Homo sapiens: one gene and its partner. The protein of the gene in region 1 purifies or fractionates together with the protein of each later gene. This does not show direct contact. Each region holds a gene or a part of one and is shown on either strand. Other genes may lie near its edges.

Region 1 (5,652 bases):
TCTTTAATTTTTTCCTTTGTTTACTTGTTATAATTCTTTTACTGTTTGTTACCCCAGATATTAAAACATTCATCTTGAACTTACTATTTTATCTCCTTAATAATGCTAGGATACTTTATAAAACACTTTAATTCTATTTACTGCCTCCCATTTTTGCATTATTATTTCCATTATTTTAAATTTTGCATACATTTTAAACCTCCCAGAATAGTACTGTTACTGTTTTGCATAGTCAATACTTGCAGTTTTGTAAAGAGGTATTTGAAGAGCTTCTTGAATCCTAAGGGTTGATGACATTCATAGCCATTACTTCTTCAAATATTGCTTTTTCCCTGCACTCTCCTCTTTAACTTCTCAGACTCTGATAGGTTATACCTTTTTTACTATGTCACACATATTCCTAATGCTCCTATGTTTTTTTCTTTAAAAAAAAAATCTCTGCTTCAGTTTGGATATTTTCTATTTACTTGTCTTCCATTTCAGAAATTCTGTATTTTGCTGTTAAACCTGCATAAGGACTTCTTAATTTTAGATTTTAGATTTTTCAATTTTTGAACTTTCATTTGATTCTTTATTATAAGAACCAACTCTCTAAAGATAGTCCTCTTTTCATCTAACTCCAATTCTCTGTGTGACTGTTTCTATTGAATTTTTTCCTTCTCTGATTTTGGATATGTGGTCCTATCTTTTTGGATGTGTAGGATTTTTTTGTTTGTTTTAAACACTGTGTATAATAAGTTGTAGGCAGGGCTCATACCTGGGAGGCTGAGGGGGACAGATCACTTGAGCTCAGGAGTCCCAGACCAGCCTGGGCAACATGGCAAAACCCATCTCTACAAAAGATAGACAAATTAGCTGGGCATGGTAGCATGTGCCTGTAGTCCCAGCTACTTGTGGGGCTGAGACAGGAGGATTGCTTGAGCCCAGGTCGAGGCTGCAGTGAGTCGTGTTTGTGCCACTGCACTCCAGCCTGGATGACAGAGCAAGACCCTGTCTCAGAAGAAAAGAAAAAAAAAATCTTTCTCCACAGAGGATTCATCTTTCCTTATGTTAGCAAATGGAGGGAAGGGAGAACACGTACATCCAGTCAGGCACTGTTGATGTTGAAATAAGGCCGGGTTGAAGCTCTGCTAAGACTCACTTTACCTCTGGATCACCCTGGCTCCTGAGAATTTTCAGCTGAGAGCCCTTTTGTCCTCTAAAGACCCTCTTCCTGATAGATGCCCAACTATTTTCTTAACAGATACTAGACTTTTGCTCTGTTCTTCAAAGGCTGTTTGCTTACATTTTTAGTCTACTGCCCTATATACCCTAGAATTCAGCAAATATCCTGAGGGGAAAATGGCCATGTGTTTGAGTTATGTTGGTTTCTCTGTCACCCAGCTGCAGCCTTCTACTGCATTCTCCAGTAGACAGGACAAAATGAGAATCCAGGACAAAAGCTGGATTCTCAGCTTTTGTCCACAGCCAGAATTGGTAAATGCTCCCACTGTCAGAGTGACTGAATAAGTCAGCTTCAATCTTTAATATTCTCTCCTCTCCAGTCTTAGCCCCTATATTTCTTGCTACCTCAGCAGCTTTCCAGTGCTTTGAAACAGATGATTTCAAGTATTGCGTCTGGCATTTACAGTTCATTGTTGAAGGAAGCACTGGACTGCCAAGCTACTGCATCTCATCTGGAAATGGCAGTGCTGAAAAAGAGCCCTCTCCTTCATACACCACACAGTTTACCATTTAAAGTGTACCATATTAGGCTGGGTGTCGTGGCTCATGCCTGTAATCCCAGCACTTTGGGAGGCTGAGGCGGGCGGATCACGAGGTCAGGAGATCGAGACCATCCTGGCTAACACGGTGAAACCCCGTCTCTACTAAAAAAATTTTTAAAAATTAGCTGGGCGTGGTGGCGGGCGCCTGTAGTCCCAGCTACTCAGGAGGCTGAGGCAGGAGAATGGCGTGAACCCAGGAGGCAGAGCTTGCGGTGAGTGGAGATCGAGCCACTGCACTCCAGCCTGGGCGACTGAGCGAGACTCTGTCTCAAAAAAAAAGTGTACCATGTATTGATTTTTAGTGTATTCACTCAGTTGTACAGCCATCATTATAATCAATTTTAGACATTTTCTTTATCATCCAGATGGGTGTGAGGTAATATCTTGTAGTTTTAATTTGCATTTCCCTAGTGATTAATGACGTTGAGCATCTTTACATGTGCTTGTTAAATATTTGTATATCTTCCTTGCAGAAATGTCTATTTAAGCTTTTTACCCATTTTTAAAATTATTTTGTTCGTTGTCGTTGAATTGTAGAAGTTCTTTATAGTATATTGTATCACATTAAAAATAAGGTCCTATCTTGTTTCCATTCTGTAATCTCGATCCTTCACATTGAAAGGTTTTTTTTTTTGAATTCAAATATATTCTTTAAAAAATTATTTTAAAGTTTGTTTTTTTTTTTTAACAGGAATCAGTGTCATTCAAGGACGTAACTGTAGACTTCAGTAGGGATGAGTGGCAACAATTAGACCTTGCTCAGAAAAGCCTGTACAGAGAAGTGATGCTGGAAAACTATTTCAACTTGATCTCAGTGGGTAAGCACGGCTCTGCTGGGTATAGAGTAGGCTGCACCTAATTGAGTATATTTTTCTTCTCAGTAGAATTGCTGAAGTCTGTGTTTTCTGAGGTATGTGGGACTTCTAAAGACTGCAGGACATCTAAAGTGTGTAATGGTTTTGTCCTTATTTTGTCCCATGTTCTTAATAATCTCTTTCGGGTAGTGTGAATATTCCTCTGTTCCCAGTGAACTTTTTTGGGAAAAAAATGGAATGCTTCATTGTATGGCCTCTGAAATCAAGTCCTCTATCATCCCCTGTTAACAGGATGTCAAGTTCCCAAACCAGAAGTCATCTTCAGCTTGGAACAAGAAGAGCCATGTATGTTGGATGGTGAGATCCCCAGTCAGAGCCGTCCAGGTGAGAAGGGAACCAAGAGCATGGTAGACAGTATGACTCAGCTGCATTTGTACTGGGAGAAGCTGTGCCCAACTTTGCCCAACTTTGATGTGTCATTAATAATGACTTTTAGAACTGCTTGGAAGAGCAGTTATTAGACAAGGACCCTTGGATAGCTAAATGCTAACCCCACTTAAGATCCCTTCTCATATCAATGCCTTCTTCTTTGCTTGGCTTTTTAGGAGGGAATATGCTACAATTACTGGTTCTTTGGATCATGTCACACTCTACTTTCTAGGGTCCTGTTTTCTTGCTTTTTTCTCTCTTTCCCTAGAAAAGTTTTATTCTTTCTACCTCCATCAAGGTCTTAGATCATTTCCTTATGCATTCAAATACTCATAGATCTACCTTCTGAAAACATTACTATGCATTACAACTTCAGCTCCTGCTGTTTCTTCTCATTTTGTCTCTTTCCCCTTAGTGCCTCACAATTGTCATCTAGAGATGGGCTTGTCTGAAGTCCCCCCATGCCTCTTCTCTGATTGTTGACTTTGAGAGTACCATTGACATTTTCTTCCTACTTGGCTAGTGCAACGCAACACTGACTTGATCTTTCTAATTTATTTATTTTCATATCTTACACAAAGTTTTTTATCTAGTGTACAGGTATATCCTGTACAGAAGATTGAGTTAATAATTATAGCCTTAGTTTTTAGTCAATATCATCATCAATGTGTTTAAGGCTCCCCTCTTATTTATTCTTTTTAATCCTCAGTCTCCATACTCATTTTTATCCTTCCAAGAGGCAACTGTTCTAATATATTTGACATGTTATGCCATTTATCCTTGAATTTCTGGGATATTTATAAAATCTGAGTTGTTGGCATTGTTAATTTGTAGAAATGGTACTGTATTATATATCCTACTCAAGTTTTTTTTTCTCAAATTGGTCCATGTTGCAGTGCATTATTCTAATTTCTACATATCATTCTGTAGTGCACATATATACCCCATTTTACTTGTCCAGTTTTTCAGCTACTACAAACAGTACTGCAATACATTTCTTCATGAATTATTCTTACTGGAAATGATAATTTATTTATTTATTTTTTTCTGAGATGGAGTTTCGCTCTGTCCCCCAGGCTGGAGTGCAGTGGCATGATCTCAGCTCACTGCAAGCTCCACCTCCCAGGTTCACGCCATTCTCCTGCCTCAGCCTCCCCGGTAGCTGGGACTACAGGCGCCCGCCACTGCACCCAGCTAATTTTTTGTATGTTTAGTAGAGACGGGGTTTCACCATGTTAGCCAGGATGGTCTCGATCTCCTGACCTCGTGATCCACCCGCCTTGGACTCCCAAAGTGCTGAGATTATAGGCGGGAGCCACCACGCCCAGCCGGAAATGAGAATTTCTTAAGGAAGAGGAGTGGGATTGCTTTATCATTGGGCATACTAATATTGAATATGATGAGGTATAAGCACATTATTTTCCAGATTGGCTGTGTCACTCTACGGTCCCTGGAACTTTGTACAAGGGTATTAGTTCCCCACATCCCTACCCATACCTAGTATTATCCAAATTTTTAATATTTTGGCTAATCTGATGGGTTTTAATTTCTAATTATTATTTAATTTGTATTTCCCTAATAAAATACTTTGAACATCTCATTCTGTATCCTTCATTTTTGATGTTCAACTGCTGATGTTTTCTAAGCCTCATCTCTCTCTCTTTTTTTCCTGGACAAACTGAGAAAAAAGCCCATGAGTTCCCTCCATTGTTGCTGGGAAATTCCAACTACATAAGGGAATAGTTAGCCCAGCCCCACCCGCCCCTGCCATAAACTCCCAAGACAGTCCTTTCCTTGCTCACTCTAGCCCCATCTGGACCTGCTTGGAGCTGTCCCCAGAAAGCCTCATTATGTGAGTAACAAATCTTTTTACACCCTCTTATTGTGTGTGTCTCATCGTCACTCTTGACATCTGAACCAAGTTTGGGGTGGGGTCCATTTCTCCTTGCAGGTCATTTACAGCTGGGGCAATAAGCAGGATGTCAAGGCAATGACCACCCCCACAGGGGTCTTTCTCCTCTTCCCAACTGGTTATACTGCCTGCTGGCAAGTATGCACTTTGCCTCTGTCCTATACATAACTAACCTACATTAGAAGTTATCATGGACATTTAGAGGCAGGTGTAAGGGCTTTGGGCCCTCCTTAAAGTTGCCCAGGTCCATGTGTCTCAGCCCAGCATAATCTGTGTCTTAGATTATGTGTCTCAGCTGCAGCATAAGCTCTGAGTGATAATTGGCTCATGGGAACAACTTTTACTCTGTGACTGTTATTTGTGTGTCTCAGTCAGGCATTGGCCCTATTGTATACAGCACTCAGGGGAAAGACCAATACTGTTTGCATTTAAGGGTCTGGCTGTTTGTGTGAAGGAAGACAAGATACAATGTAGCATGTAAAAGCAGGTGGCTTGCCTTTCAAAATGTTGTCATCTTCTCTTGGAGTTTTTTTACTTTTCCCTCTAATCCATCTTCTCAGATAATTCATTCTGCTTTTCTACTTATTTTTCTCATTTACAAAAGCCTCTTTCTTACCTCCCAGTCATATCACCTACAACCATGTCTGTGTTTTCTCATGCCTAGATTATTCTAATCCTATTTGTATGTGATAATCCCATTCTTTCTTTTTCACTATTTCATCTCAGATGC
Region 2 (4,576 bases), on another chromosome or scaffold:
CTCACTGCAACCTTCGCCTCCCGGGTTCAAGCGATTCTCCTGCCTCAGCTTCCCGAATAGCTGGGATTACAGGTGTGCACCACCACACCTGGCTAATTTTTTGTATTTTTAGTAGAGGCAGAGTTTCACTATGTTGGTCAGGCTGGTCTCGAACTCCCAGACCTCAGGTGATCCACCTGCCTTGGGCTCCCAAAGTGCTGGGATTACAGGCATGAGCCACCATGCTTGGCCCAGAGCTGTTGTTTTAAAGTAACTCTTTCTTTATAATAATACCTCCTTAGTTCTTCCTAGGGGAAGAGAATAAAGTGATTTGTATACTCATTAGTTGTGTTAACATTTTATTCTTTTGATTTGAAGTTAGCAATTGTTGTATTTTAATTAATTAATTAATTAATTTTTTATTGAGACAGAGTCACTCTGTTGTTCAGGATGGAGTGCAGTGGCACAATCTTGGCTCACTGCAACCTCTGCTGTGAGCTGAGATCCCCAAATTTTTTTTGGGACAGTCGAGTCCTGCTCTGTCGCCCAGGCTGGAGTGCAGTGGTCCGATCTTGGCTCACCACCAAGGATTATCTCTTCCCCCCTTGGATAAACTTGGCATCTTTGTTGAAAATCGGGTGTCCGTATATGTGTGAGTCTGTTACTGGGCTCTTTATTTTTTATTTTTTTTGAGACGGAGTCTTGCTCTGTCGCCCAGGCTGGAGTGCAGTGACACGATCTCTGCTCACTGCAATCTCCGCCTCCCGGGTTCACGCCATTCTCCTGCCTCAGGCTCCAGAGTAGCTGGGACTATAGGCACCCACCACCACGCCTGGCTAATTTTTTGTATTTTTAGTAGAGATGGTGTTTCACCGTGTTAGCCAGGATAGTCTCGATCTCCTGACCTCGTGATCTGCCTGCCTCATCCTTCCAAAGTGCTAGGATTACAGGTGTGAGCCACCACGCCCAGCTGGGCTCTTTATTTTTATCTGTTTGTGTATTGCCTTTTTTTTTTTTTTTTTTTTTTTTTTTTGAGACAGAGTCTCGGTCTGTCACCCAGGCTGGAGTGCAGTGGTGTGATCTCGGCTCACTGCAACCTCTGCCTCCCGGGTTCAAGTGATTCTCCTGGCTCAGCCTCCCTAGTAGCTGGGACTATAGGCGTGCACCACCACGCCCATCTAATTTTTGTACTTTTAGTAGAGATGAGGATTTACCATGTTGGCCAGGCTGGTCTTGAACTCCTGACCTCAGGTGATCTGCCCACTTTGGCCTCCCAAAGTATTGGGATTACAGGCCTGAGCCATTGTGCCCCGGCCTACTGTCTTGATTACTATAACTTTATATGAAGTCTTGAAATTGGGTAATGTGACTTCTTCAACTGTTATTCTGTTTCATAATTGTTTTGGTTATTCTAGGTTCTTTGTATTTCCATATAAATCATAAAAGCAACTTGTCAATATCTACAAAAAGGACTACTGGTATTTTAGTTGGGATTGCATTAAATCTGTAGGTCAGTTTGAGGAAAATTGCCGTTTAATAACGTTGAGTCTCATGTTGTTTTAAAAAATAGAGGCGAGGTCTCACTATGTTGTCCAGGCTGGTCTCGTAGTCCTGGGCTCAAGCAACCCTTGAGCCTCAGACTCCCAAAGTGTTGGGATTACAGGCATTAGCCACCACGCCTGGCGCTAGTCTCCTGATTCTTGAATCCTGTATATCTCTGCATTTATTTAGATCTTTACTTTCTCTCAGCATATTTTGTCATGTAGCTGGGACTACAGGCGCCTGCCACCACGCCTGGCTAATTTTTGTAATTTTAGTAGAGATGGGGTTTCACCATATTGTTCAGGCTGGTCTCTACTCCTGACCTCGGGTGATTCACCTGCCTCAGCCTCACAAAGTGCTGGGATTACAGGCGTGAGCCACTGCGCCTGGCCAACACCTGGAACATTTAATTGAACATTTGTTGTTATTGTCTTAAACACTGGATGCCCCAAAAACCCTGTGGTTAAAAATGAATGGTGAAAAAATATGAATGGTGAAACCTGTTTGGTAACATCTTTATTTTCAGGTTGCTGGAGGAGCCAGTATGAGTCAGATTTCAGAAGCACTGAGCCGATACAGGAACAGATCATGTTTTGTGAAGGAAGCCCTCCACAGGCTGTTCACAGAGACATTTTCAATGGAGGTAACCATGCCTGCTATTTTAAAGGTAATTGAAGGAAGACAATTTTTACTATTACTTCTTAACTTGGTTCAATTAATAATTGTTCACGAACCACACTGAATATAATAAATTATATGCTTTATTCTATAGTGAGTCAAGTGCTCTCATAGAGCAAAGAATGTTAAGCTTAGCTGCCAAAGTGTCTTTTGCTTTGAGCATCTGGATTTATGTGGAATAAATTAGAATCAAAACAGTTAAAATTTGGTCTAAGTAAGGGAATAATAGGATCATGTGGCTTTCTGAAAGAAAACAAGTGCAGAACAAAATAAAAATAATTAAGGGTGGCCAAATCTACCACTTGAAGTATTTTGTGAATGACATAAAGTTGCTTTTATCGATATAGCCAAACTTAGCTTTGGTTTAGGGAAGGATGCGTTTTATTGTAAATGTAATTACAAGTATTAAGAGGCTTGGGAAAGAAAACTTCAGTTATTTATTTTTCTTTTATACATGTGTTTATTTGAAAATTGTTGTTTTTAGTGAAACATAACAATGAAAGGTCTTAAGAAAAACCTTGTCTTTATTTGTAATTTTTTGCAATTCCTTAAAAATGTGGATATTTTCCCAGCACTTTGGGAGGCCGAAGCGGGTGGATCACGAGGTCAAGAGATTGAGACCATCCTGGCCAACATGGTGAAACCCCGTCTCCACTAAAAACAATACAAAAATTTGGTGGGCGTGGTGGCGCACTCCTATAGTCCCAGCTACTTGGGAGACTGAGGCAGGAGAATCGCTGGAACTCGGGAGGTGGAGGTTGCAGTGAGCCGAGATTGTGCCATTGCACTCCCTCCTGGTGACAGAGCGAGACTCAAAAAAAAATATTTTTACAGCATGGGAGATTAACTTTATTTACAGCTCAAAAGCTGTATAAAGAAAAACTCTGGGTCAGCTGTGGTGGCTCATGCCTGTAATCCCACCACTTTGGTTGGGAGGCCGAGATGGGAGGATTTCCTGGGGCCAGGAGTTCAAGACTAGCCTGATCAACATTAGTAAGACCCTGTCTCTACAAAAATTTAGAAAAAGAAAAAAAATTAGCTTCTGGCTGGGCACCATGGCTCACGCCTGTAATCCCAGCACTTTTTGGGAGGCTGAGGTGGACAGATCACCTGAGGTCAGGAATTTGAACAGCCTGGCCAACATGGTAGAACCCCGTCTCTACTAAAAATACAAAAATTAGCCAGGCGTGGTGGCAGGTGCCTGTAATCCCAGCTACTCAGGAGGCTGAGGCAGGAGAATCACTTGAACCTGGGAGGTGGAGGTTGCAGTGAGCCGAGATGATACCACTGCACTCCAGCCTGGGCGACAGAGCAAGACTCTGTCTCAAAAAACAAAAAAAAAGTTAGGTGGGCATGGTTGTACATGCCTATAGTCCCAGCTACTTGGGTGACTGAGATTGGAGGACTACGTGAGCCCAGGATTTTTTTTTGGTTTTTTTTTTTTTTTGAGACGGCGTCTCGCTCTGTCGCCTAGGCTGGAGTGCGGTGGCTTGATCTCCGCTCACTGCAGGCTCCACCTCCCGGGTTCACACCATTCTCCTGCCTCAGCCTCCCAAGTAGCTGGGACTACAGGCGCCCGTCACCACGCCCAGCTACTTTTTTGTATTTTTTAGTAGAGATGGGGTTTCACCGTGTTAGCCAGGATGGTCTCGATTTCCTGACCTCGTGATCCGCCCGCATTGGCCTCCCAAAGTGCTGGGATTACAGGCGTGAGCCACTGCGCCCGGCAAGCCCAGGAGTTTGAGGCTGCTACAGTAAGCTATGATGGTGCCACTATACTCCAGCCTGGGTAACAGAGCGAGATCCCAACTCAAAAAAATAAAATAAATTAAAAATTCTCGACCTTTTTTTCCATCTGTAAGGAAGAGATTGAATTAGATGTTCTTCTGTTTTTGTTTGTTTTTGTTGTTCTTTGAGACAGGGTCTCACTCTGTTGCCCAGGCTGGAGTGCAGTGGCATGATATGATCTCAGCCAACTGCAGCCTTGACCTCCTGGGCTCAAGTGATCCTCCTGCCTCAGCCTCCTGAGTAGCTGGAACTATAGGCATGCCCCACCATGCCTGGCTGTTTTTTTTGTTTTTTCTGTAAAGATGAGGTCTTACTGTGTTGCCTAGGCTGAATTTAGATGTTCTAAATTTCTTTTCATACCAGGATTGTGTAGTTTTTGTGAAAATCACATTTCTTTTGGTTTCTGGATTTCTAAATTGCAGATGATGGCAATCTAATGAAACTGAAAAATCAATTTAGCAATATACAAAAAAAAAGTCATTTTCCATAGCAGAAGTATATCCCAGGTCTGTCTCTAGTAGAGGAAACAGATCACAGTGTCCTTGAATGACAGAGCAGGTGGGGTCTAAGCTTGGAACAATGCCCTCAT

Evidence for each region. The genes of interacting proteins can lie anywhere in the genome.
Region 2: the proteins of ZNF484 (region 1) and ZYG11A purify together in Homo sapiens (affinity purification with mass spectrometry; one large-scale study listed by BioGRID and IntAct). This does not show direct contact.

The regions. Positions count from the first base shown.
Region 1 is NC_000009.12:92,853,124-92,858,775, reverse strand, and holds part of ZNF484 (zinc finger protein 484), read left to right. Parts: intron 1-2,457; coding exon 2,458-2,584; intron 2,585-2,872; coding exon 2,873-2,965; intron 2,966-4,817; coding exon of another isoform or gene 4,818-4,862; intron 4,863-5,652. UniProt on the Homo sapiens protein: May be involved in transcriptional regulation.
Region 2 is NC_000001.11:52,858,684-52,863,259, forward strand, and holds part of ZYG11A (protein zyg-11 homolog A), read left to right. Parts: intron 1-2,047; coding exon 2,048-2,188; intron 2,189-4,576. UniProt on the Homo sapiens protein: Probably acts as a target recruitment subunit in an E3 ubiquitin ligase complex ZYGA-CUL2-elongin BC.